Linked DNA regions of Homo sapiens. The protein of the gene in region 3 interacts with the protein of the main gene of each other region in a pairwise test. Each region holds a gene or a part of one and is shown on either strand. Other genes may lie near its edges.

The links.
Region 1: the proteins of VDAC2 (region 3) and ICAM5 interact in binary tests that used the Homo sapiens proteins (3 or more experiments, as listed by UniProt).
Region 2: the proteins of VDAC2 (region 3) and PEX1 interact in binary tests that used the Homo sapiens proteins (3 or more experiments, as listed by UniProt).
Region 4: the proteins of VDAC2 (region 3) and FMR1 interact in binary tests that used the Homo sapiens proteins (3 or more experiments, as listed by UniProt).
Region 5: the proteins of VDAC2 (region 3) and KIF1B interact in binary tests that used the Homo sapiens proteins (3 or more experiments, as listed by UniProt).
Region 6: the proteins of VDAC2 (region 3) and BRK1 interact in binary tests that used the Homo sapiens proteins (3 or more experiments, as listed by UniProt).
Region 7: the proteins of VDAC2 (region 3) and WFS1 interact in binary tests that used the Homo sapiens proteins (3 or more experiments, as listed by UniProt).

The regions. Positions count from the first base shown.
Region 1 is NC_000019.10:10,295,115-10,297,278, forward strand, and holds the end of ICAM5 (intercellular adhesion molecule 5 precursor), read left to right. Parts: intron 1-231; coding exon 232-498; intron 499-1,224; coding exon 1,225-1,502; 3' UTR 1,503-1,664; downstream 1,665-2,164. UniProt on the Homo sapiens protein: ICAM proteins are ligands for the leukocyte adhesion protein LFA-1 (integrin alpha-L/beta-2).
Region 2 is NC_000007.14:92,511,521-92,515,020, reverse strand, and holds part of PEX1 (peroxisomal ATPase PEX1), read left to right. Parts: intron 1-1,053; coding exon 1,054-1,173; intron 1,174-3,317; coding exon 3,318-3,441; intron 3,442-3,500. UniProt on the Homo sapiens protein: Component of the PEX1-PEX6 AAA ATPase complex, a protein dislocase complex that mediates the ATP-dependent extraction of the PEX5 receptor from peroxisomal membranes, an essential step for PEX5 recycling.
Region 3 is NC_000010.11:75,209,460-75,213,595, reverse strand, and holds the start of VDAC2 (non-selective voltage-gated ion channel VDAC2), read right to left. Parts: upstream 2,801-4,136; 5' UTR 2,658-2,800; intron 2,463-2,657; 5' UTR 2,438-2,462; coding exon 2,407-2,437; intron 2,115-2,406; exon of another isoform or gene 2,013-2,114; coding exon of another isoform or gene 1,937-2,012; intron 1,367-1,936; coding exon 1,298-1,366; intron 1-1,297. UniProt on the Homo sapiens protein: Non-selective voltage-gated ion channel that mediates the transport of anions and cations through the mitochondrion outer membrane and plasma membrane.
Region 4 is NC_000023.11:147,928,919-147,932,418, forward strand, and holds part of FMR1 (fragile X messenger ribonucleoprotein 1), read left to right. Parts: intron 1-1,029; coding exon 1,030-1,123; intron 1,124-1,209; coding exon 1,210-1,326; intron 1,327-3,500.
Region 5 is NC_000001.11:10,290,570-10,294,069, forward strand, and holds part of KIF1B (kinesin-like protein KIF1B), read left to right. Parts: intron 1-512; coding exon 513-592; intron 593-1,477; coding exon 1,478-1,553; intron 1,554-3,500. UniProt on the Homo sapiens protein: Has a plus-end-directed microtubule motor activity and functions as a motor for transport of vesicles and organelles along microtubules.
Region 6 is NC_000003.12:10,122,175-10,125,674, forward strand, and holds part of BRK1 (protein BRICK1), read left to right. Parts: intron 1-3,451; coding exon 3,452-3,500. UniProt on the Homo sapiens protein: Involved in regulation of actin and microtubule organization. Part of a WAVE complex that activates the Arp2/3 complex. As component of the WAVE1 complex, required for BDNF-NTRK2 endocytic trafficking and signaling from early endosomes.
Region 7 is NC_000004.12:6,297,350-6,300,849, forward strand, and holds part of WFS1 (wolframin), read left to right. Parts: intron 1-3,307; coding exon 3,308-3,500. UniProt on the Homo sapiens protein: Participates in the regulation of cellular Ca(2+) homeostasis, at least partly, by modulating the filling state of the endoplasmic reticulum Ca(2+) store.

The DNA.
Region 1 (2,164 bases), on a different chromosome or scaffold from region 3:
ATTAGAACACTGACCTGGGCTTCACCTCCTTCCATTCGGTGAAGAAGGGCGAGGAATTTTAGCCGCAACAGCAGCCTGATTGTCGGGGAAGGAGGCTCTGATAGGAGGCAGGATCCTCTTCTGCCCATCAGAGGCGCGGTGGTCTCCCATCGATCGTTGTGGGCCGGAGCAGGGCATTTGATCAGTGGCTGGGCCGGCGCTAAGCCCCACTTCACCTTCTGTGCCCTTCAGACCGGCCAGTGGTGGCCGAACTTGCTGCCTCGCCCCCTGGAGGCGTGCGCCCAGGAGGAAACTTCACGTTGACCTGCCGCGCGGAGGCCTGGCCTCCAGCCCAGATCAGCTGGCGCGCGCCCCCGGGGGCCCTCAACATCGGCCTGTCGAGCAACAACAGCACACTGAGCGTGGCAGGCGCCATGGGAAGCCACGGCGGCGAGTACGAGTGCGCAGCCACCAACGCGCACGGGCGCCACGCGCGGCGCATCACGGTGCGCGTGGCCGGTAAGTGGCAGCTGGGGAGAGGCGGGGCGAGGTATCTGAGAGGGGGCGTGACCTGGGTCTTGGGGCGGCCGGCCCCGCCTGCCTCCCTCTCGGTCCCGGTAGACTAGACGGAAGTGGGACAGAGTAGAAGTCAAAGGTGCCTTAGCGGGTGGGGCTGTTGATCGCACTTTGAGGGGTGGGAGATGGAGGTGGCAGGGGGACTGAATTCAAGGGGAGGGACCCTCCGGGGCTGTCACTGCTGCAGGAAAGGACTTTAAAACTTGGGCTGGATTCTGCGTGGTGGAAACTTGACCCAATTCACAATCCACTGTGGGGAAGATTGGGGAGGGACCAAAGTCATTGGATGTTGGAGGGAGAGAGGGGTCAAGATCGCCTTCTCTCACTTCCTGAAGCTCCTGGGGCTGGGTTCTCTCTGGGGTCGGGGGAACCTGACCTGGTCCTGCCGGTCCTCATTTTTTGGGGGATGGGGAGAGTTGACTTGTCGCCAGGGGGCTAAGTGTGGTCACGGGTTTATATCCCCATGGGCTGAAGTGCGATATAAATCGGGACTCGGGTCGCCCTGGCACTGGGAGTGGCCTTATTGCATGGGTTGTCTCCCTTCTCCCAAGGCCAGACAGTGAGCTCCCCGGGGCATGAGGACTGACTTCGTGCCTGTGGGAGTGCGGGGGGCGGTGGGAGAAGCCCCCCGGAGCTTGGCCACCCTCCGCGAGGGTCTCCACCCCGCAGGTCCGTGGCTATGGGTCGCCGTGGGCGGCGCGGCGGGGGGCGCGGCGCTGCTGGCCGCGGGGGCCGGCCTGGCCTTCTACGTGCAGTCCACCGCCTGCAAGAAGGGCGAGTACAACGTGCAGGAGGCCGAGAGCTCAGGCGAGGCCGTGTGTCTGAACGGAGCGGGCGGCGGCGCTGGCGGGGCGGCAGGCGCGGAGGGCGGACCCGAGGCGGCGGGGGGCGCGGCCGAGTCGCCGGCGGAGGGCGAGGTCTTCGCCATACAGCTGACATCGGCGTGAGCCCGCTCCCCTCTCCCCGCGGGCCGGGGGACGCCCCCCAGACTCACACGGGGGCTTATTTATTGCTTTATTTATTTACTTATTCATTTATTTATGTATTCAACTCCAAGGGCGTCACCCCCATTTTCTACCCATCCCCTCAATAAAGTTTTTATAAAGGAACTCCCTGTCTCCGCTTCTGTTTCTGCAAGGTGGAACAAGCCCAGGGTTCCAGTCGTGACCTCCCGAGTTATTCATTCAAAAAGCGATTTTTGAGAGGGCCTGGGGTGGTGGCTTAGGCCTGTAATCCCAGGACTTGTGGGAGGCCCAGGTGGGAGGATCCCTTGCACCCAAGAGTTTCAGACCAGCCTGGGCAACATAGGGAGACCCTACAAAAAATATTTTTCAAAAATTAGCCAAGGCCGGTCGCGGTGGCTCATGCGTGTAATCCCAGGACTTTGGAAGGCCGAGGCGGCCAGATCACGAGGTCGAGGTCATGAGATCGAGACCATCCTGGCCAATATGGTGAAACCCTGTCTCTACTAAAAATACAAAAATTAGCTGGGCATGGTGGTGCGCGCCTGTAGTCCCAGCTATTCGGGAGGCTGAGGCAGGAGAATCGCTTTAACCCCGGAGGCAGAGGTTGCAGTGAGCCGAGATCGTGCCACTGAACTCCAGCCTGG
Region 2 (3,500 bases), on a different chromosome or scaffold from region 3:
GGCCGGAGTGTGGTGGCGATCTCCACTCAATGCAAGCTCTGCCTCCCAGGTTCAAGCGATTCTCTTGCCTCAGCCTCCCGAGTAGCTAGGATACAGGCTCCCACCACCACGCCTGGCTAATTTTTGTAGTTTTAGTAGAGACGAGGTTTCACCATATTGGCCACGCTGGTCTCAAACTCCTGACCTTGTGATCCGCCCACCTCGGCCTCCCAAAGTGCTGGGATTACAGGCGTGAGCCACTGCGCCCGGCTGAGGTAAAATTTAAAGTGTACAATTCAGTCATTTTTAGTATATTTATACTAGTTGTACAGCCATCACCACAATCTAAGTTTAGAACATTTTCATTAGGGGGTGGGAGAAATTTTACTCTGCTTTTTAGATTAAGTTTCTGTCTGGATCTAATCATTTAATCAGACAATCAGGCAGATTGTCTGTGATTAGTTTTGGCCATTCCAGCTTCTTCATTGGTTGTTAACTTTCACAAATAAAGGCTGCTCAAAGATTAGAAATAACATTTAATTTGAATGTAAATGTGCCATAGTTTAAAAGATGGGTTTGGTGAATACAGTCAAATACATACATTTAAAGCTCTAATTCTGAAGATTATGTAAAGAAAAGGAAAGAAATGTAGGGAGAGGATTGAAATGTTCATGGTATAACAATATCTGAACATCCATCTGGTCACACCGTTGGTATTTGAATGTTTTGTCCTCCTCAAATTCATATGTCGAAATCCCAACTCCCAAGGTGATCGTATTAGGAGGTGTGGTCTTTGGGAAGTGATTAGGTCATGAAGGTGAAGCCTTCATGAATGGGATTCGTGCTCTTATAAAAGAGAACTGTGAGAAATAAGTTTCTGTCGTTTGTTAGCCACCCAGTTTAGGATATTTTGATATAGCAGCCTGCATGGACTGAGACAACTATGAGTTATTATGATAGCTTCTGTTATTTCACCTAAATTCATAGAAGCTAATATATCAATATTTATGCTATGAAATATTTCTTAACCAAGCTTTGAATATATTTATATTTTTGTTTATTTTTAAATTTCAGATTCCAGATGACCTGAGGAAGAGACTAAATATAGAAATGCATGCCGTAGTCAGGATAACTCCAGTGGAAGTTACCCCTAAAATTCCAAGATCTCTAAAGTTACAACCTAGAGAGAATTTAGTGAGTTCAAATATATATGTTACATCAAAATTCTTTTACACGTTTTGTAAGATTTCTAGTTGCTTTAGCTAAGTAATAAGAATGTTGTATTCCTTTTTGATACAAATCTTTTTTTATTGTGTTAAACTATATATAACATAAAATATGCCATGTTCGCCATTTTTAAGTGTATAATTCAAAGGCATTAATTACATTCATAATATTGTACAACCATCACCACTATCTATATCCAGAACTTTTCCATCACCCCAAAGAGAAACTTGGTACCCATTAAACAATAATTCCCCGTCCACTCCTTTCCCCAGTCCCTGGTAATCTCTAATGTATATTGTGTCTCTATGAATTTACTTATTCTAGATATTTCATATATAAGTAGAAGTATGCATTTGTCTTATGTATCTGACTTATTTCATTTAACATAATGTTTTCAAGGCTCATCTGTGTTGTATGTATCAGAATGTTATTCCTTTTCATGGCTGAATACTATTCCATTGACTGCATATACCACATTTGTTTATCCATTCATCTGTTGATGGACACTTGGGTTGTTTCCACATTTTTGGCTGCTGTGAATAATGCTACAGTGAACATTGGTGTACAAGTATCTGTTTGAGTTCCTCTTTTCAGCTCCTTTGGGATATACCTAGGAATTATGTTTAACTTTTTGAGAAGCTGAGAAATCTTTAATAAATGATAACACAAATACTTATATTTGCCAATGCAAATATGAATATTTTTGGCTTTTAAGAGATTGATCATTTTGCCACGTGGTTGTAATTAAAAAAAATTGTCCCATGTTGTTTCAGTATTAATATTGTAGCCTAAAAGAGTGCTAGACTGTTTTACTTTTTACTCAGTTAATTCTTTGGATACTGGTAGAGTCAGGAAATGAGATATTGAACTTAAAGATCTTTGCAGGTGGGGTCCAGTGGCTCACACCTGTAATCCTAGCACTTTGGGAAGCTGAGGTGGGAGGATTGCTTGAGGCCAAGAGTTTGAGAATAGCCTGGGCAACATAGCAAGACCCCATCTCTACAAAAAAATTAAAAAAAAAATTAAGCCAGGCGTGGTAGCTCACGCCTGTTATCCCAACACTTCGGGAGGCTGAGATGGGTGGATCACTTGAGGTCAGGAGTTGGAGACCAGCCTGGCCAACATGGTGAAACCCCATCTCTACTAAAAATACCAAAATTATCGGGGCGTGGTGCTAATCCTGTAATCTCAGCTACTCAGGAGGCTGAGGCAGGAGAACCACTTGAACTGAGGAGGTGGAAGTTGCAGTGAGCCTAGATCTCACCACTGCACTCCAGCCTGGGTAACAGAGCGAGACTCTATTTCAAAAAAAGTAAAAATAAAAATTAGACACATGTGGTGGCACATGCCTGTAGTCCTAGCTACTCAGGAGGCTGACTGAAGTGGGAGGATCTCTTGAGCCCAGGAGTTCCACACTGCAGTGAGCTATGATTGTGCCACTGCACTCCAGCCTAGGCAATATCTCAAAAAAAATTTTTTTAAATAGATTATTAGGCCAGACGTGGTGGCTCATGCCAGTAATCCCAGCACTTTGGAAGGCCAAGGCAGGCGGATCACCTGAGGCCAGGAGTTTGAGACCAGCCTGGCCAACATGGTGAAACCCCATGTCTACCAAAAATACAAAAATTAGCTGCAATGTCTATAATCCCAGCTACTTGGGAGCCTGAGGCAAGCGAATCGCTTGAACCCGGGAGGCAGAGGTTGCAGTGAGTGGAGACTGCGCCACTGCACTCCAGCCTGGGCGATACAGCGAGATTCTGTCTCAAAGAAAAAGGAATTTGTTTTCCTGTCTTTATCGTAGAGGGAGGAAAGGGAGAATGGGGTTGGAATGGTTATTGAGTGAGCCACATTATGGTAGATGTATCACTGGGCATAGAGAAAAGGAGCATTTAAAACTTTTCCGCCTAACAGATGTTTCTTCAGGCTACACTGCACTCATTGTGCTAACTGTAATGTCAAATCCCAGACCTGTGCCTATAGAACATGAACATCCTTCATTGGATTTGTTTGGTCAGGCTTACACTTTATTAGGAAGATCAGATGTTAAAATAAGGGTGTTAAAGTTAAGTTCAGATATGAGGATAATTCATTACTATTCCTTTTTCTGGCAGCCTAAAGACATAAGTGAAGAAGACATAAAAACTGTATTTTATTCATGGCTACAGCAGTCTACTACCACCATGCTTCCTTTGGTAATATCAGAGGAAGAATTTATTAAGCTGGAAACTAAAGATGGTGAGTACATTTGTTATTTTGACTTTTTTTTCTATTTAAATAGTTGTACATTTTTAATT
Region 3 (4,136 bases):
ATTTTTTGTATTTTTAGTAGAGATGGGGTTTCACCGTGTTAGCTAGGATGGTCTCGATCTCCTGACCTCGTGATCTGCCCGCCTCGGCCTCCCAAAGTGCTGGGATTACAGGTGTGAGCCACCACGCCCAGCCCCCAAACTATTCTTAAACTTAAATATCAGATTAAAAAATCATTCAACTGAAATTTCAGAATAGCTAATAACTTATCATGATATGGCCAGGTGCGGTGGCCCACGCCTGAAATCCTAGCACTTCGGGTAGTCGAGGCAGGCAGACCACTTGAGATCAGGAGTTCAAAACCAGCCTGGCCAACATGGTGAAACCTCGTCTCTACTAAAAATACAAAAAAAAAGCTGGGCATGGTGGCATGTGCCTGTAATCCCAGTTACCAGAGAGGCTGAGGCAGGAGAATTGCTGGAACCCAGGAGGCAGAGGCTGCAGGGAGCCGAGATCACGCCCCTGTACTCCAGCCTGGGCAACAGAGCGAGATTCCGTCTCAAAAAAAAACAAAAACAAAACCAACTTATCATAATACAGACATTTAGGACATTTATGCCAATGGGGTATTTCCAACAGTCTAAATAAAGGGGAGGAGGGTATGGAACAAAATTTTCAAGAAAACTCAAATTCACCTGAAAAAGCTCATAACTCTAGATAAAGTATTAGGAGTCACCACAAAAGCAAAACAGTAATATATCGTAACTCTAGTCAACCAGGGCCTAAGCTATAACTGAAAAAAAATTAAAGCACGAGCCGTTTTTCTTAAAGGCTCAAATCTTCTAAGTACAGTTTTTAAAAATTTTGGGAAATTGGGGGAGGGGGATGTAGACTGTAAAAGAACTATTTTCACATAAGTTTAATCTAAGTATCTTAAGTTTCTAATAGAAGAATTAATACAAGGCTGGGCACAGTGGCTCATGTCTGTAACGTAATCCAACCAGGCTTTGAGAGGCCACTGTGTTTACTGGGTAACACAGTGAGACCCCACCTCTACGAAAAATAAAAAAAATTAGCCAGGTGTGGCAGAGCGTGCCTGTAGTCCCAGCTACTTGGGACGTGGGAGGCTGAGGAAAGATGATCGCTTGAGCCCAGGAGGTCCAGGCTGCAGTGAGGTATAATCATGCCACTGCATCCAGCCTGGGCAACAGAGGGAGACCCTGTCTCAAAAAAATAAGTAACTCTAAATTTAAAGCAGCAAGATATTTACAATTTGCAATGATTGATCTGATTTCGCTAAGCAACCCAAACATACATTTTCACTCTTTATCTAAAACGTTTTAAAAATAAGGTTCTTACCAAATCCTTTGTTGAAAATATCTCTGGCAGCTTTGCCAAGGTCAGCATATGATGGAGGAATACACATTGCTGGTAGAAAAAAAACATTCCAGTGTTAATGTCTCTATTCTCCCACCTTCTATCCAAGAACAAGAGCATGACCCACTGCTGATATTAAAATTCAAGCAATCCCATTTGTTGGAATGTTTTTTATGCGGTCAGGAGCTACAATAGAACTATAACGACCCATAAAGGAGATACCACCAACGAATTATTTCTAAAACAGATAACCATGATTATACAAACTTGGGGAATTCGTTTCAAAACGGAAAAACAGTCTATTACCTACAGCCTCACTTCCTAGGACTGGACAAGTACAAAGAATCAAACAAGTATTTGTGTGTATGGATATTTATGTATCTGCCAAAATTCACTGAGATGAGCTGATTTAACTAAATTAGATAAAACCGAAACCTAAGACTAGGCCCTTTACCCTGATACGTCCTTTAATATCTTCGCTGAGGGGAAAACCAACACCCTGGAGTGGGAAGAGAATTTAATACTGGGAATTTAAATATTGAAACTTGGAAAAAATACTGCCATGTGTGTTTCACTCAAATGTCTACATCAACTAAATATCAAATAGCGCTTCAAACTTACTAATGTGACTCTCAAGTCCTCGGCCAATGCTGTGCTGCTTAAGGGCAGGCAATCTGAGCTCATTACACCAGCTCATTCATTCCACAAAGCACGTCCACGCCCTTAGGAGCACAAGTAATGACCTTGCGCTCTCACAAGAGGGACTGCTACTTCCTCTAGAAAAGTGATTGATCCGATCCTCCAAAGGCAGAATCCCCAATTAACAACTTTTTACTTCTATACGTCAAAGACATGTACAAAGGCTGAAAAGTCCATGCGGCCACAGACCAACTCCCCGGGCCTTGTTCCCCATTTGAAATCCAGCAGCCCAGCCCCTCCTCCGCAGAGGAGGTGGTCAGACGGTGGGGCGACCACCAAAAGCAGCCGAATTTCCAAGTTCTTGGAAAGATAGGGGGAAACAAACTGGGTTTCTGGTCGACAGGCTTCGACTCTCCGCCGCCCCATCCCGCAGAGATCCCAGCTTTACTTACGACGCGCGCAAGTCTGTCCGTGGGTCGCCATGGCGAGGCCGCGGGAAGAGGGGAATCTGCGGGAGGGACAAGAAGTGCGGTAAGCTGGGGTCAAAGGGCCAAAGGGAGATCCCGGGCAGAGAGGGGCGAGGGGCCGCGGGGCAGCGCGGCCATCTTAGGAAGCCAGGGCCGACTCCGAGTCCGGCGCGGGCCTCCGGCTTGGCCGCCGCGGCCTAGGCCCCTGGGTCGGCGTGAGGCGGGCGCGGCGGTACCTGGTGGTGTCCTGAGGGGGGCCGCCGCCACCGCTCCGCTAGCTGCTGAAGCCGCTTGGCACGCTCGCGGTCGGGCTGCAGCTCCAGCAGCTGGAGGGCGAAGTGAAGGAGACACCGTTCCGCCCGCCGCAACCCTGTCCTCTCCCAGACAGGACCCCGCCGCTGCCCCCGGGGCTGTCCGCCGCGCCTGTCCCTGCAGCGCAGCCCGCTGCCAACTCCAACCTGCTCCAGAGCGGCCACGTGGACCGACAGCGCCCCGGTCCTGCAGGTGGGCTGCCTCCGTCCGTCGGTGGGGATCCGGAAGGCAGAAGCTGCTGGGCCTTGGATCAGGCAGCTATCCGGGCAGCCTCAGAGGCGAGGGGGCGGGGAACGGCGGAGGCAGCGCGCTGGGGACCGCCTGGGAGGGGGATGGGGCGGAGGCCCCGCGCGAACGCGTCACGGACGGGGCGGGGCGTCGGCGCGTGGCCGGGGCGATAGGGCGCGGCTGCGCACCAGGGTCACGTAGATCTCTCCTACTCCCCTTACGCGCTGGTGCGGGTTCCCCCCCGAAACAAAGCCCTGCATAGGGTGCCTGCGGGGAGTCAGCTGAGCGTTACCCACGTCCATCCTAAGCTAGCGCAGCCTGCGCTTCTGAGGGACCGCTTCTCTTTCCCAGCCCAGGGAGAACGAGTGGGACACAGGGGCGCCACCTCCAGCCCCTCGCGCTCTTCTGCCCTCTTTTCCCACCTTGGTGTGACTGCCTTGCTGTGCTGGGTTGTGTGCCTGAGAGGCTTTTTGGGACTGCCTCTCCCTGAACAAATGTGAGCGGGTCCTAGCGTGCCCCACCCATTTCCACGCCGCCTTACGCTTTCTCTTCCGCGGCTCCTCCCCACTCAGGCATGGCACTGCTTCACACACGCACGGAGCCGGAGCTTGGCGAGGCAAGCCTGCTCCGGGCCCAACCTCCTCTGGATTATGGGCCTGGAGAAAATGTGGAATCATGCTGAGCAGGCGTTAGAATGCCGCACCCGAGTTCCCCGGGTGTGCAGGAAGGGTGACAGAGCTATTAGATAAAATGTATATGGGAGACCGTTAGTTTAGACTGACCTCCTGCATTAGGCCCATCAGACCAAACCAAAATGGGGTTACTCATGCTGAAGTTTCACACTACCACGCCAAAGCTAGGATCTTTATCTGACCTTCCAAGAAATCAGGAGAGAAACAGATGCTAGCCAGATCCCCAAACAGGCTGGGCGCGGTGGCTCACACCTGTAATACCAGCACTTTTGGATGCCGAGGTGGGCGGATCGCCTGAGCTCAGGAGTTCCGGACCAGCCTAGGCATAGTAATACCCTGCCTCTACCAAAAAAAAAAAAAAAAAAAAAAAAAATAGCCGGGCGTGGTGGCTGGCGCCTGTAGTCCCAGCTAATTGGGAGGCTGAGGAGGGAGGATCGCTTGAGCCTGGGAGGTTGAGGCTGTAGTAAGCTTAGATGGTGCCAC
Region 4 (3,500 bases), on a different chromosome or scaffold from region 3:
GGTGGACTTTGGCAAAAATGGTTTGGTTTGCAAGAGCAATGGAGAAAAAACTTATTTAACTTTTCCTACTTATAGAATCAAGGCAGCCTTGCGCTTGTTTAAACTTACTTGGCTATACACGTGTCTGATGTACATAATGTACATTTGTTTTCTAAACTAACTTTGTTCATTCTAAGATTTAAAAACTGATCAAACAAATGTGATAATTCTGTCATAAGTCACAAACTATAAACGATTTCTCCGTTTTTTTCTCTTTTACCTAAAATGTTTTCAGATAAATGTGTAATAAGTAGAGCCAAAGAAGCTTTAAAAAGTCATCTCATCTTACAATCCTTGATCTGGAATAATGCTTAAAGACTATAGAAGAGACGCATTTTTATTTTTTACAGATTTTATTAAGTGAATACAGTACGTTTGATTTGGACATGTTGTTGAACATTAAATTGCAGTTCAGAATACATAGAAATCCTCCCTTTTCTAGAGATTGTGTATGTGTGTAAATTTTTGTGCCTTCTGGTTCATGTACGTTTCCTTCTCTCCCTCAAATCGTTTAGCAGTTTCTTACCCCATTCTCCGTGATGTGCTTATTTCATATTGCATGCCTGTATCAAAACATCTCATATGCCCCATAAATATATATACCTACTATGTACCCACAAAACTAAAAATTAAAAAAAAAGGAAAAAAAAAGGCCTGCAACAAGAGAAGAAGAAAGAAATCAGATACCCTGTAGGTAGCTATCTCCAAAAGTTTTCAATAGTTGACTTAAGAAAACTACTGACTTGTATGTAACTGAAATCAGGAAACCTGTAGTGTAGAGTGGTTCCCCTGAATATGTCTCTTTTGGTAATCTAAGCTGTATTTCAGAAATGTACAGAAAAGGAGCTAAGCTTCTAAATGGATATAGCATATTTTGCATAAATCAAATTTAATATGAATCCATGATTCTTGTATGTGTAAATCTGCCTGCATTTATTTATGTCAGTAGTTGGTAATTATTCATCTTAATTTTTTTTTTTAAATTTCTAGGTGTGCCAAAGAGGCGGCACATAAGGATTTTAAAAAGGCAGTTGGTGCCTTTTCTGTAACTTATGATCCAGAAAATTATCAGCTTGTCATTTTGGTGAGCATTTTTGAGTTGTTTATTTTTAGTTTAATTCATCTGGGGCAATTGCCTTGATAATAATGTTGTTAATTTAAATCATTTAGTCCATCAATGAAGTCACCTCAAAGCGAGCACATATGCTGATTGACATGCACTTTCGGAGTCTGCGCACTAAGTTGTCTCTGATAATGAGAAATGAAGAAGCTAGTAAGCAGCTGGAGGTATGTCACTTTCCCTAGCACTGCTTGTAAGGGTACCTAGGAACGATTAACTGTATCATTCCACAACTTGAATATGGGGAGCTTGTCATTTATTTACTGCTTCTTAACAATTCCTTAGGTTCTATAGTTGGAAAATTGTACAAAGCATAATCATACTAAAGTTTCCATGCCTGAGGTTTCAAAATTAAACAGCAGCTTATGTATATTAAGGGACTTCTGGTACTTTCACTTTTACTAGAAGTTTATCAAAGTTGCTAATAAAATGCGGCAATGCTTCTTCCATATAACATGTTGTCATTAAAAATACTAGAGAATATTTAAATATCTAATCATATTCCTCTCATTATGTATGTTTATCTTTGTTTAAAAGGGTATAGAACTTCTTCATTCTAATTGGTTGTCATTCTTTAAAACTCCTGTCTTCAGATTCCCGCCAGAGGCTATTTCCCTAACTTACTATTTTGTCTCTTAAGGTGCATTTTATCTACTTTTATTAATCCTCCAATAATTTTCATCACCATATATTTGTTTTCATTGATAACTATCAAGTACGTCCATCCATTACTATAGAAACTAAGTGGATCTTAGATGAATGTGCCAGCTCTACTATATTCCTGTCAAATTCCAGAGTTCGTCATCATTATTCATTAGAAGGAAAACACCACACATTTGAAATAGTAAAGAAAAAAAGGAGTTCCAAACTGCATTTTAGGAGAAAAGGTAGTCAAGACTGTGTTCTTATAAAAACCCTGTGAAATTTGCCACCTGTCAACTTGATGTATGATGCTGAACTCTTAGCAGAAGGGGAAAAGTTTAATCTCCTTTTGCCACTTTGTTTTTTCTTAAGGCCATGGAGGTCTGTTTAATTGGTCTTTGCTCTCATTCTTTCTTGATGTCCCTGTGTTCATGATTTTGTGGTTCCTTCAGTGATTCTCTCATAACTTTTAGCCCAGAGCTGCCTCCTTACTTTGATTGTGAGTATTATGAAAATATACTCATATGCCTCTTAAACATCGAATTATTCTTAAATGATCTATCATACTTTTGGCTAACCATTTATCAGTGAATTATCAATGAAAAAGAACGAACCAGATTAATGAACCAGGACTCAAAAAACATGACTTCTTGAAAAGTCCTAGAATTATTTTATAGATTTTATTACTCTAGTCTAAAAAAAATGGGTATTGCACTTTTAAATTATTTATGCTAGTTGTATTCATTCATTCAAATTATCAGGTCTGTTGAACAATGAGAAACTAGTATGCATGCCTATCTTTCTTCACTACTAATATTAAAGAGATTTACATGTTCCTATAAGAAATTCCCATTTTTCAACATGAGCCACTAATACGTTTGGTTTTCATTAATGGCATGCTAGAACTGAACACTAAATTTTGATAATGGTATTTAAAGACAGTGGTTATCCACAAGTTTGGGATGTCAGTGTAACTTAGTTTCGTCATCACTGGATATTTACAAGTGCTCATCATAATTGTGGATCCAGATCACAAGGTCTTACGGACTCTGGTCTCATGTTAGCTTTCAGATGCTTACTAAGTTTTTAATTTTTGACATTTTTTGATTATTCAGTTTAACTACTGTACCAACAATTTTTGATTCCTTAGGTTTTGAGGGAGGTGTCATTTTAATGTCATTTCAACAGAGGAATGTTTAGACCACAGTACCTAATGATGTTATAAAAAATGGCACTGTTTCCAGAAAATATATACTGATACCTTTTAATAAAAATGAAGCGAATAAAATTTTCTATAAAGATGATATTTAAACATTTTTTTACCTAAATAAGTAACATTGAGTTTGTCAGACCGAGTGAGCTGGTTTTTACTGGGGAACATTTGACCTGCTTCTTAGTTATTATATTGCTGATGTCATTGGTTAACTAAGGCAGCCTTGTGATAAGTTTTCAGCAGTTACCTTGGAAAATGTCAACAAGTTCTTTCCTATTAACAAAAACATATAAAATGTCATAGACCTTTAGTAACCTAAAAAGTACTTAGGCTGTGAGAGGTATTTTCTAAAACCTGTTAGTTTTAACCTAAAACTATTAATAATTTATGGACCCCTCATATACAGGGTCAAGATAATTTACATGGCTGGCCTAAATACAGTTGTCGTAATAGTTGATAAAGTGTATTCATCAGACGTCCATTTCT
Region 5 (3,500 bases), on a different chromosome or scaffold from region 3:
CTCCCGGGTTCATGCCATTCTCCTTCCTCAGCCTCCTGAGTAGCTGGGATTACAGGCGCCTGCCACCATGCCCACGTGGATCACGAGGTCAAGAGCTTGAGACCATCCTGGCCAACATGGTGAAACCCCGTCTCTACTAAAAATACAAAAATTAACTGGGCGTGGTGGCACGTGCCTGTAGTCCCAGCTGCTCGGGAGGCTGAGGCAGGAGAATCACTTGATCCCCAGAGGTGAGGTTGCAGTGATCTGAGATCGCGCCACTGCAGCCTGGTGACAAAGGAAGACTCCGTCTCAAAAAAAAAAAAGACTTGGAGGATTTATTTGTTTGGGGTTGATTTAGTTTTAGGTCTAATCTTTATGATTCTTATCTTATGTATTAATAAAAGAAAAATCTCTTTACATTTAATTCTGGCCTGTATCCTCAAAGGGCATGATTTGCTTCTTGCTTTTCTAGCATGGTATGTTAAATTATAAGACTCTTTGCCTCTTTAACTGTGCGCTTCCTTCCTTAGGAATCAGAGAAGATCATTGCTGAGTTGAATGAAACTTGGGAAGAGAAGCTTCGTAAAACAGAGGCCATCAGAATGGAGAGGTCAGGAGGTTAAAATCTGGAAATGTTTCTAAGTTTTCTAGGGGATGTGGATTACTTTATCGTAAGAAAAGATAAAATATAAATTAAAATCAAAGAGTCTGCCCTTCTAAAACACAAAACGAAACCAAAAAAATGGACAGGGATTTATGGCCAGTTGAATTTATGCTTTGAAATGACATCTACATATTTAAATATTATCTAGGGAGTCACAGGTTTATTAGTTACCATATTACATGTTGCTAGGGATTCATAAAAATGGAACATATTGGCCAGGCGCGGTGGCTCACGCCTGTAATGCCAGCACTTTGGGAGGCTGAGGTGGGCAGATCACGAGGTCGGGAGATCGAGACCATCCTGGCTAGCATGGTGAAACCCCATCTCTACTAAAAATACAAAACAAATTAGCCGGGCATGGTGGTGGGCACCTGTAGTCCCAGCTACTCGGGAGGCTGAGGCAGGAGAATGGCGTGAACCTGGGAGGCAGAGTTTGCAGTGAGCCGAGATGGTGCCACTGCACTGCAGCCTGGGTGACAGCAAGACTCTGTCTCAAAAAAAAAAAAAAGGAATAGCCTCTTCTTTTCTTTTTTATATTAATATGCATATCATTTATGAATTATTGACTATCCCAAAGTCAGTTGAGACAAAGTTCTTATCTCAGTGAATATAACTTTAACAAAGCAAGATTTCATTGATTTTGAATGTGATGTTGCTTTTAGAAATAACTTCTCATTAATGATGAGATAAGCACATTATTTTATGTTTGCATTATTGGCTATAAACATGGCCAGTTGTTTTTGCTTTGCAGGCTTTATTTTCCAATTCATATTAGACTGATTTAATTGACATTTTGGTATTAGTGTTCTGATATACCTGTTTTTTTCCTAGAGAGGCTTTGTTGGCTGAGATGGGAGTTGCCATTCGGGAAGATGGAGGAACCCTAGGGGTTTTCTCACCTAAAAAGGTAGGAAACAATGCTGTGAAACCTAATCAGACAGAGACACTTTTTGTTTGTCTTTGTTACTGGGGCACTTCATGTCTTTCAGGACCTACTCTCCCCCTTATTATCTTGATACTTGCCTTAATTTCAGATATTTCTGATTTCATCTTAGAGCATGGTCTTATAGTACAAAGGCAGCCTATTTCTAAAATGCCTATCTTGTTTACTGTTTACAAAAGAAAAAACCTAAGGCAATATGTAACCTTTGGCCATGATTCAGTTTGTTTAGTCATCTTTATTTGTTGCTTTCTCTTAAATTCCCAGCCTAACCTAGCGTACTTTCAGTTTTGGCTACTCTTTCATGTAGATTTTCCCACAGAAGTCGTCTACCCTGCTTTATAACTTTTTGGAACCAATTTCAGCTGTACAGGTTTGTGGAGAATAATACTGCTTCCATTTGCTTCTGCAATTTGTATTATAGACAGCCATTGTACTAAGTAAAGCAATTCCTGTCCCTATCCTTCTAGACTCCTCTGCTTCCTTCTTCATTTTTTAAAAAGTGTCTCCAATAGTTACCTTCCTTTTTACATAATCATAGTTATGAAGTAGTTACGTAGCTTTTAGCTAATTAGAGTAGTAAGGGTTTTTTTGTTTTTTTCTTAAACTAAGTTGCAACGTCTTGTTGGATACTAGAAAATGACTATCAAATGGTTATTTTGTGTGCTTATGTATCAGAAAATAGGAGAACATATATCGATGTACAAAGCATGTATTTTATGCCACTAGTAAATTGTCCTTTATTTCAAGTGACCTCACATTGGCTATTGGAGACTTAAACATCTTTATTCATAGGTTCTGTTGATGATCTCTCTAAGTTAGGATACAAGGGGTGGTGAGTTTTGAATTGGTACTTTTATGTGATATGAAATATTCCTGTGGTTTTCGCTACAATTCTTCTGGTCAGGTTTTTCTATCCTGGCCACATAACTTTTTTTTTTTTTTCTTCCCAAATTCCAATGTGTTATTTTCAACAGAAAAGACTGATGTAAAGACATTTTAGATGCATATTGTAGAATAGAACAGTTAAGTATTTTATATGTTTATATTATGAAAGGTTAGTGGTTTTCACAGTTTTAATAGTTTTTCCTTCAGTAAGACATGTATTCATTCAGATATGTTACTTAGGATTATATAGATTTTAGCAGTTACAGTTTTGGTGGAATTTAATTGTGCCTATGCATATGTCTAATAAAGGTATTTTATAACATCTTACAGTATTAAAGACTGTGAGGAAATTTTTTTTTTTTTTTTTTTTTGAGACAGAGTCTCACTCTGTCGCCAGGCTGGACTGCAGTGGTGTGATCTTGGCTCACTGCAACCTCCGCCTCCCGGGTTCAAGTGATTCTCCTGCCTCAGCCTCCCAAGTAGCTGGACTGCAGGCACATGCCACCACGCCCAGCTAAGTTTTGTATTTTTAGTAGAGACGGTTTCACCATGTTGGCCAAGGGTGGTCTTGATCTCTTGACTTTGTGATCCACCCACTTCAGCCTCTCGAAGTGCTGGGATTACAGGCATGAGCCACTGTGCCTGGCTGGAAAATTTTTATTATAACAACTAGTGAAAATATTATGCATTTAACATAAATCATAAATAACTTGAACAAATGTTGAGATGTACACTGCATGGAATTCCAAAGTGAGATCTCTGCTTCCAAAGCTTTTTCTTACTTTAATTTTACCCATCTTGCTTTAGCTTTCTAGACTTCTTCATGAAAGGAAGGGATATACCAGTGACCACATCCAAACTCAGTCTTAGGACCTGTTTCTGAGATTCCATTTTTCAAATTATGATGTGCTTTAAAGAATGCTACTCACAAAGGGCTTTGACTTTCTCAAACCAGTCAAGTTCTTCAACTACAAAGGGGGATGCTAGTTGAGAAGATGTGGAGGTTTTTCAGATTTCTCTTTAACC
Region 6 (3,500 bases), on a different chromosome or scaffold from region 3:
GGCCTCCCAAAGTGCTGGAATTACAGGCATGAGCCACCGCGCCTGGCCACTTGTAACTTTCAATGGCTATTTTAATAGTCTCATTAATACGCTATATCAAACCATTCCAATCATGGGCATTTGGTTTTGTTGCTTTTTCACCATCTTAAATAGTAGTGATGCACATTCTTATTTGTAAAATCTTTATCCAAAGAGGGAAGTCATAACCAAAGACCAAGTACATGAATAACTTACAAATTAGAAATTCAGAGGCTGGCACGGTGCCTCACGCCTGTAATCCTAGGACTTTGAGAGGCCAAGGCAGGTGGATTGCTTGAGTTCAGGAGTTTGAGATCAGCCTGGGCAACAAAGTGAGACCCCCATATCTACCAAAACAAAAAACAAAAAAATTAGCCAGGCACAGTGGCATCCACCTACTGAGTAGTAATTGCAGCTACTCGGGAGGCTGAGGTGGAAGGATCACTTGAACCTAGGAGTTGGAGGGTGCAGTAAGCTATGATTGCAACACTGAACTCTAGCCTGGGTGACAGAGCAAGACCATGTCTCTTTTAAAAAAAAAAATTCATCCGTAAATGTTTAGATAAATACAGAAGAGGAAGAATTATTATGTCCATCTGGCAAGACCTCTCAGAGATAGAATTTGAACTTAGCCTTGAAGGAGATAGGCAGGCAAGATGAGTAAGATTTGGACATAATAAGATGAAAGTTGAGGCAAGATCAGGGTGTAGGAAGATTTGTCAAAATGGATGCTGAAGCGCTTTTGCAAAACAGCCAGGGAATAGATGAAAAGGAAACTTGTTAGCTAAGTGTTAAATCATTGCGTGGGAGAGTCTCAGCGAATATTTCAGACTTGAAAACTGAAGTTTATTGAGAGATGACTGAACAACAATGTTGGAGGAGAGAGTAGAAGATAATGACCATGCTAAGATACCTTTTCTCTCATATGTTGAGAATAGTTGGAAAAAGAATAGTTCCTGTTACAGAAGTTTGCAGAGAAAAAGTTGTTTTAAATTAAATCTGGTTTCATTTTGAATGAGATGGTAAAAGAAGATTGGAAAAGCTAGAGGAAGAAGAATAATTTTGGCTGTTTTCACAGATGGAATGTGGGCTTTATCGGGTATTTGATGCTCTCCAACTTTTCTCTAGTTCTGAAAGGCCTTTGCCTCTAGGAGCAACAGTAGTGACATGGCTTTAATGAGCTCAGAACTCTCACACCTTCCCTCCCCATAATTTCTGCTGCTTTCTTGGCCTCTACTTTCTTTCCTTTTTTTTTTTTTTTGAGACGGAGTCTCACTCTGTTTCCCAGGCTGGAGTGCAGTGGTGCAATCTCGGCTCACTGCTACCTCCATCTCCCGGGTTCAAGCAGTTCTCTGCCTCAGCCTCCCGAATAGCTGGAATTACAGGCGCCCGCCACCACACCCGGCTAATTTTTTGTATTTTTAATAGAGACGGGGTTTCATTGTGTTAGCCAGGATGGTCTCCATCTCCTGACCTCGTGATCCACTGCCTTGGCCTCACAAAGTGCTGGGATTACAGGCCTGAGCCACCGTGCCTGGCCTTTTTTTTTTTTTTTTTTTTTGAGATGGAGTCTCACTCTGTCACCCAGGCTGCAGTGCAGTGGTGCAATCCCAGCTCACTGCAACCTCCGCCTCCCAGGTTCAAGTGATTCTCCTGCCTCAGCCTCCCGAGTAGCTGGGACTAGAGGCACCCGCCACCACACCCAGCTAATTTTGTATTTTTAGTAGAGATGGGGTTTCACCATGTTAGCCAGGCTGGTCTCAAACTTCTGACCTCAGTTGATCTGCCCACCTTGGCTTCCCAAAGTGCTGGGATTACAGGCGTGAGCCATCACGCCCAGCCTCGTTTCTTTCCTGTTGAGATTATTTTCTTATTCTTGCCATGTCCCCTCTCTTGAAAGTCTTAGTTAGGCCATTAGTAAATGGCTGTACAGCCTTGGTGTATTCATTTGCTATTCCTGGCATAACATATTACCACACAGGCTGGGCACAGTGGCTCACACTTGTAATCTCAGCACTTTGGGAGGCCAAGGCGGGCGGATCACGAGGACAAGAGATTGAGACAATCCTGGCCAACATGGTGAAACCCCGTCTCTACTAAAAATACAAAAAAAAAAAATTAGCTGGGCATGGTGGCGCACACCTGTAGTCCCAGCTACCTAGGAGGCTGAGGCAGGAGAATCGCTTGAACCCGGGAGGCAGAGGTGGCAGTGAGCCAAGATTGCGTCACTGCACTCCAGCCTGGAAACAGAGTGAGACTCCATCTCAAAAAAAAAAACCAAAAAAACAAATTACCACACATTTTGTGGCTTAAACCACATACATTTATTATTTACCATGTGTAGGTCATAAATCAAACACTGGTCACTGGGCTAGCAATCTTCACACCTTGGCCAGCAGTCTTCACACCTTGGCCTTCTGAAGTATTAGGATTACAGGCATGAGTCACTGCTCCTGGCCTGGGCTCCAATCAGGGTTTCAGCAGGACTGCCTTCCTTTCTGGAGGCTCTAGGAGAGGGTCTAGTTCCTCGAATATTGGGTTGTTGGCAGAATTCAGTTTCTCGTGGTTGTAGGACTGAGATCTCTGTTTTGTTGCTGGCTGTGAGCTGAGAGTTGTTCCCAGCTTCTAAAGGTCACTTACATCCCTTGGTTCATGGCTCCCTTCTTCCACTTTCAAAGCCAACAATGGCAGATTGCATCCCCTTCACACTTGGAATCTCTTTTTCTTCTTCCATTTCATCTCTGACCCCCTTCCTATGCCTTTCTCACCTACATTTGTGGACTATGATTAGATTGGGCCCAAATGGACAATCCAAGACAAACTCTAGGATCTCAAGGTTCTTAACCTTAATCATACCTGCAAAGCCCTGTTTCCTCATGTATAATCCATATTCACAGGATCCAGGGATTAGAGAAAGGACTTTTTTTTGAGACAGAGTTTTGCTGTTTGACCCAGGCTGGAGTGAAGTGGCGAGATCTTGGCTCACTGCAACCTTTGCCCCCCCCGGTTCAAGTGATTTTCCTGCCTCAGCCTCTTAAGTAGCTGGGATTACAGGCATGTGCCATCATGCCTGGCTAATTTTTGTATTTTTAGTAAGAGACAGGGTTTCATGATGTTGGCCAGGCTGGTCCCGAACTCTTGACCTCAGGTGATCCACCCGCCTAGTCCTCCCAAAGTGCTAGGATTACAGGCATGAGCCACCGTGCCCTGCAGGAAAGGACGTTTTTGTGGGGCCGTTATTCTCTACTTGCAACACTTGATAGGAAGTTCAGCAGATCCACTCTAAGCAACTGTGCTATGAGTGGATCTTAGCACTGTATCCATTTCCATTTGTATTCTGTGTATTATTCCTCTTTTTCATTGTAGGTGTTGTGTGTGTCTGTGTCTGTGTTTGGAGTGACATTAATCCTGAACACCAGTCTCTTTTTCTCAGATATGTCTTGTCGTTCAAGACTTGCAACACTAAACGAGAAATTGACAGC
Region 7 (3,500 bases), on a different chromosome or scaffold from region 3:
TCACTCAAAGTGAAAATGACAGACACCTCTTTGTGAGCCACCCTTACTCCCACAAAGAATGTTCCAGACTCCACACAGTTCTCTTCTGGAGCCTGGAGGTGCAAGCTGTCATCGTAGATAGAATCCTCTGAAAACAAACTTAATATCTTAAAATCGTAACATTTTTAACATTACATAATTGGAAGATCCGACACGGGAACATTTTTGCCCACAGGTTTGAGCAGAATCTCGTCTCGGCTCCCTTCCCCAGCCTGCCTTCTTCACGGGTCCGCTGGGCCATCGGTGTGGTGACGCTGCTTCCTGGTTTCTCGTGGCAGCAGAAGGGCCGATCACCACAGGCCCAGACAGAGAGCTCTGCAGTGTTCTATTCATAGAGGCAGACTCCTCATAGTTTTTAAGTTTCGTTCTTTTTCCATCTCAGGAGTTGAATTTGTTTGGACCTTCTTTGCAGAAAAGGAGACTGAACTTTTTAATCCCATGTCAGAGGAAGGTCTTGGGTGTACATTGCAGGGAGCAGAAATTGGGGCTTTAAAAAGGGGATCGTTCCCTGGTCATCGAGTTCAGGTGGGGGACCAGCCCCTCCACACTGTCCAAGCAGAGGCTAGACGCCATCCAACGTAATGTTCTAGAATATTCCTTGTCTTTTAAAGGCCCTCTCAACCAGGTGGTTGTGTGTGTTCTAGGCAAAAGAATGTGCATGGCTTTGAGTAAGACAGGATTTCAGATTTATTTTTACCAAGGCCACCCCCTTGCTACCGTGGCGGTCGTGCGTGAAACTGGTGGTGAGCAGTGGCGGGCCAGGCCACCTTTAGTTGTCCTGCTGTTCGCAAGGCCCCCATACGGGGATTAACTGAGCAGCCTGCCGGCTGACGCACATGTTGACTCGTGTAGCTGTTGATTTTAGCCAGCTGGCCTGGCGTCATACTACAGGGGCTTGCCCCAAACAAACCCTGGAGTAGGTTGGTTTTCATAAATGCCCTCTGGCTCTCTGGCAAGCGTTGGAAATGCCCTCAAACCCTGTAGTGCCTGGTCTTCCCTGGCCATCTCCTGGCAGTGTGAGCGCCTCTCTGCTCATGTAGAAGGTTGTTGACCCCAGAGAGAGCTAGGGGAGCTGTTAGCTGCTTTAATCGTTTATTTGCTTGTTATAAAACAGAGATTAAGTGGACTGTCACAAATATACATGAAGCAGCAGAGCTGTTCCCCCACGTGTAGACGTGCATGCACACACTCCTAAACACTTCCGTTTCTTCCATGAGCCTGTCCTTCTCATCTGTGGAAGGCTCAGTCTGTGTAGACATGCATGCACACACTCATAACACTTCCGTTTCCTCCATGAGCCTGCCCCTCTCCTCTCATCTGTGGAAGACTCAGTCTTCTGGTTGTTTCCAGGTGTCCTGGTCCTCCAGAGCTGATAGCCAGGCTGTTGGCAGGTGAGGGCCACATTCTGGTGTTGTCACCTAGTTGCCATTCACCTGGGATCCCTCCTTGGCCTTCTGGTGGGCCTGGTGGAGAGAACCTGCCCCAGGGGATTTGTGGGGTCTGGTGCTTCCCCGAGGCCCGGAGCTGATGGGGGGCTCCAGCCTGGATGTGTCATGTAGCCCCTCAGTGGGCCCTGGACATGCAGCCAGGCTTCCCTACCCCCATGTGGGGCCGCCCCCTAGGCGTCCACTTCCTGGTGTTGGTCCAGGCCCCTGGCACTTCTGAAGATGCACAGAACCTGCTTTGTATGCCACGCCATGCTGTGTGAGCACTGGCACCATGGCCACTTTGTCCCCCATCCCCTCCAGTCCCTCTGCCTGGCTGCCCTGTGTTCTGGCAGGGCTCAGGGCCTCTGAGTTCTGCACAGACCAGGAAGGCATGAGGGCTGGCCCTGGGTGGCAGCGCTGCTTCACCCCATCCTGAGGCTGCTCCCAGCATGCCTCCCTCAGCCCTCTGCTCCTCTTGGCTGTGGTGAAGGCCAAGAGCTCTTTCTGACCTTAGCGCTGCATGCAGAGCAGGGGAGCAGGACCCACAGGTCGGGGGAAGGCAGCCTTTGGCCTTGACTATGGGGAGGTAGGGGTGCGCTGGTGTGTATGTGTAGGTGCACACGTGTAGGGGTGGGTGTGCATGTGTGAGGGTGCACGTGTGGGGGTGGGTGTGCACGTGTGTGTAGGGGTGGGTTGCGTGTGTGTGAATGTGTATAGGGGTGGGTTGTGTGAATGTGTGTGTAGGGGTGGGTTGCGTGTGTGTGAATGTGTGTGTAGGGGTGGGTTTGAATGCAGGTAGGTTGCGTGTGTGTGTAGGGGTGGGTTGCGTGTGTGTGAATGTGTGTGTAGGGGTGGGTTGTTTGCGGGTAGGTTGCGTGTGTGTGAATGTGTGTGTAGGGGTGGGTTGTGTGAATGCGGGTAGGTTGCGTGTGTGTGTGTAGGGGTGGGTTGCGTGTGTGTGAATGTGTGTGTAGGGGTGGGTTGTTTGAATGCGGGTAGGTTGCGTGTGTGTGAATGTGTATAGGGGTGGGTTGTGTGAATGCGTGTGTGTAGGGGTGGGCTGCATGTGTGTGTGTAGGGGTGGGTTGTGTGTGTGTGTATGGGGTGGGTTTGTGTGAATGCGTGTGTGTAGGGGTGGGTTGCGTGTGTGTGTGTGCACGTGTGTGTACGGGCAGAAGGTGGCCTGGCAGCTGCTTCTCAGGGTCTCCGGCCATAGGGAGGGCAGCTCACCCGGCAGCCCCGTGCAGCTGAACGGTATTTTTGCTGGGAGAGTGGTGCTGGGCCCTCTGCCTGTGTCTGCACTGAACTCCCTTTCCCTAATGCTTGCTCTGCCACCCCTCCGGGGACTGCCTGCGGCTTCTCCTCCTCGTAAGGATCGCCATTTCCCTTCATGGAGGCTCAGGGAGGTGACATCCTTGCTGTAGTGCAGAGCTGGGTCACAAAACCAGCTCCCAGACAGGCATCTCAGGGCTCCGTCATCTCTTCATGTGGGTGACCCTGAGGGGAGGGAAGTGGGGAGCCCGTGGGTCCCTCCAGTGCTGGAGGTCTTGCAGGGAGAGAAGCACACATGCATCTAGTCACGCTGGTAGAAGGTGGGGAGCCAGGCACGGGGCAGAGGGGGGCTCCAGGCCCAGAAGAGGGAGGGCTCACAGGGACCGCGAGCATGGGGAGGGCCACCTGGAGAAGGGGGGAGGGAGGACCACTAGGATGGGGCTGGTGATGGGAAAACGCAAGGGTGCGGGTTCCTTTTGCCCAGAGGCAGGGTGGTCAGAGGGAGGCGTGAGATGGGAGCAGTGGGGGTCCTGTCCCAGCCTCGTTCCCACGTACCATCTTTCCCCCAGGTGGTCAAGTACCCCCTGCACGCCATCATGGAGATCAAGGAGTACCTGATTGACATGGCCTCCAGGGCAGGCATGCACTGGCTGTCCACCATCATCCCCACGCACCACATCAACGCGCTCATCTTCTTCTTCATCGTCAGCAACCTCACCATCGACTTCTTCGCCTTCTTCATCCCGCTGGTCATCTTCTACC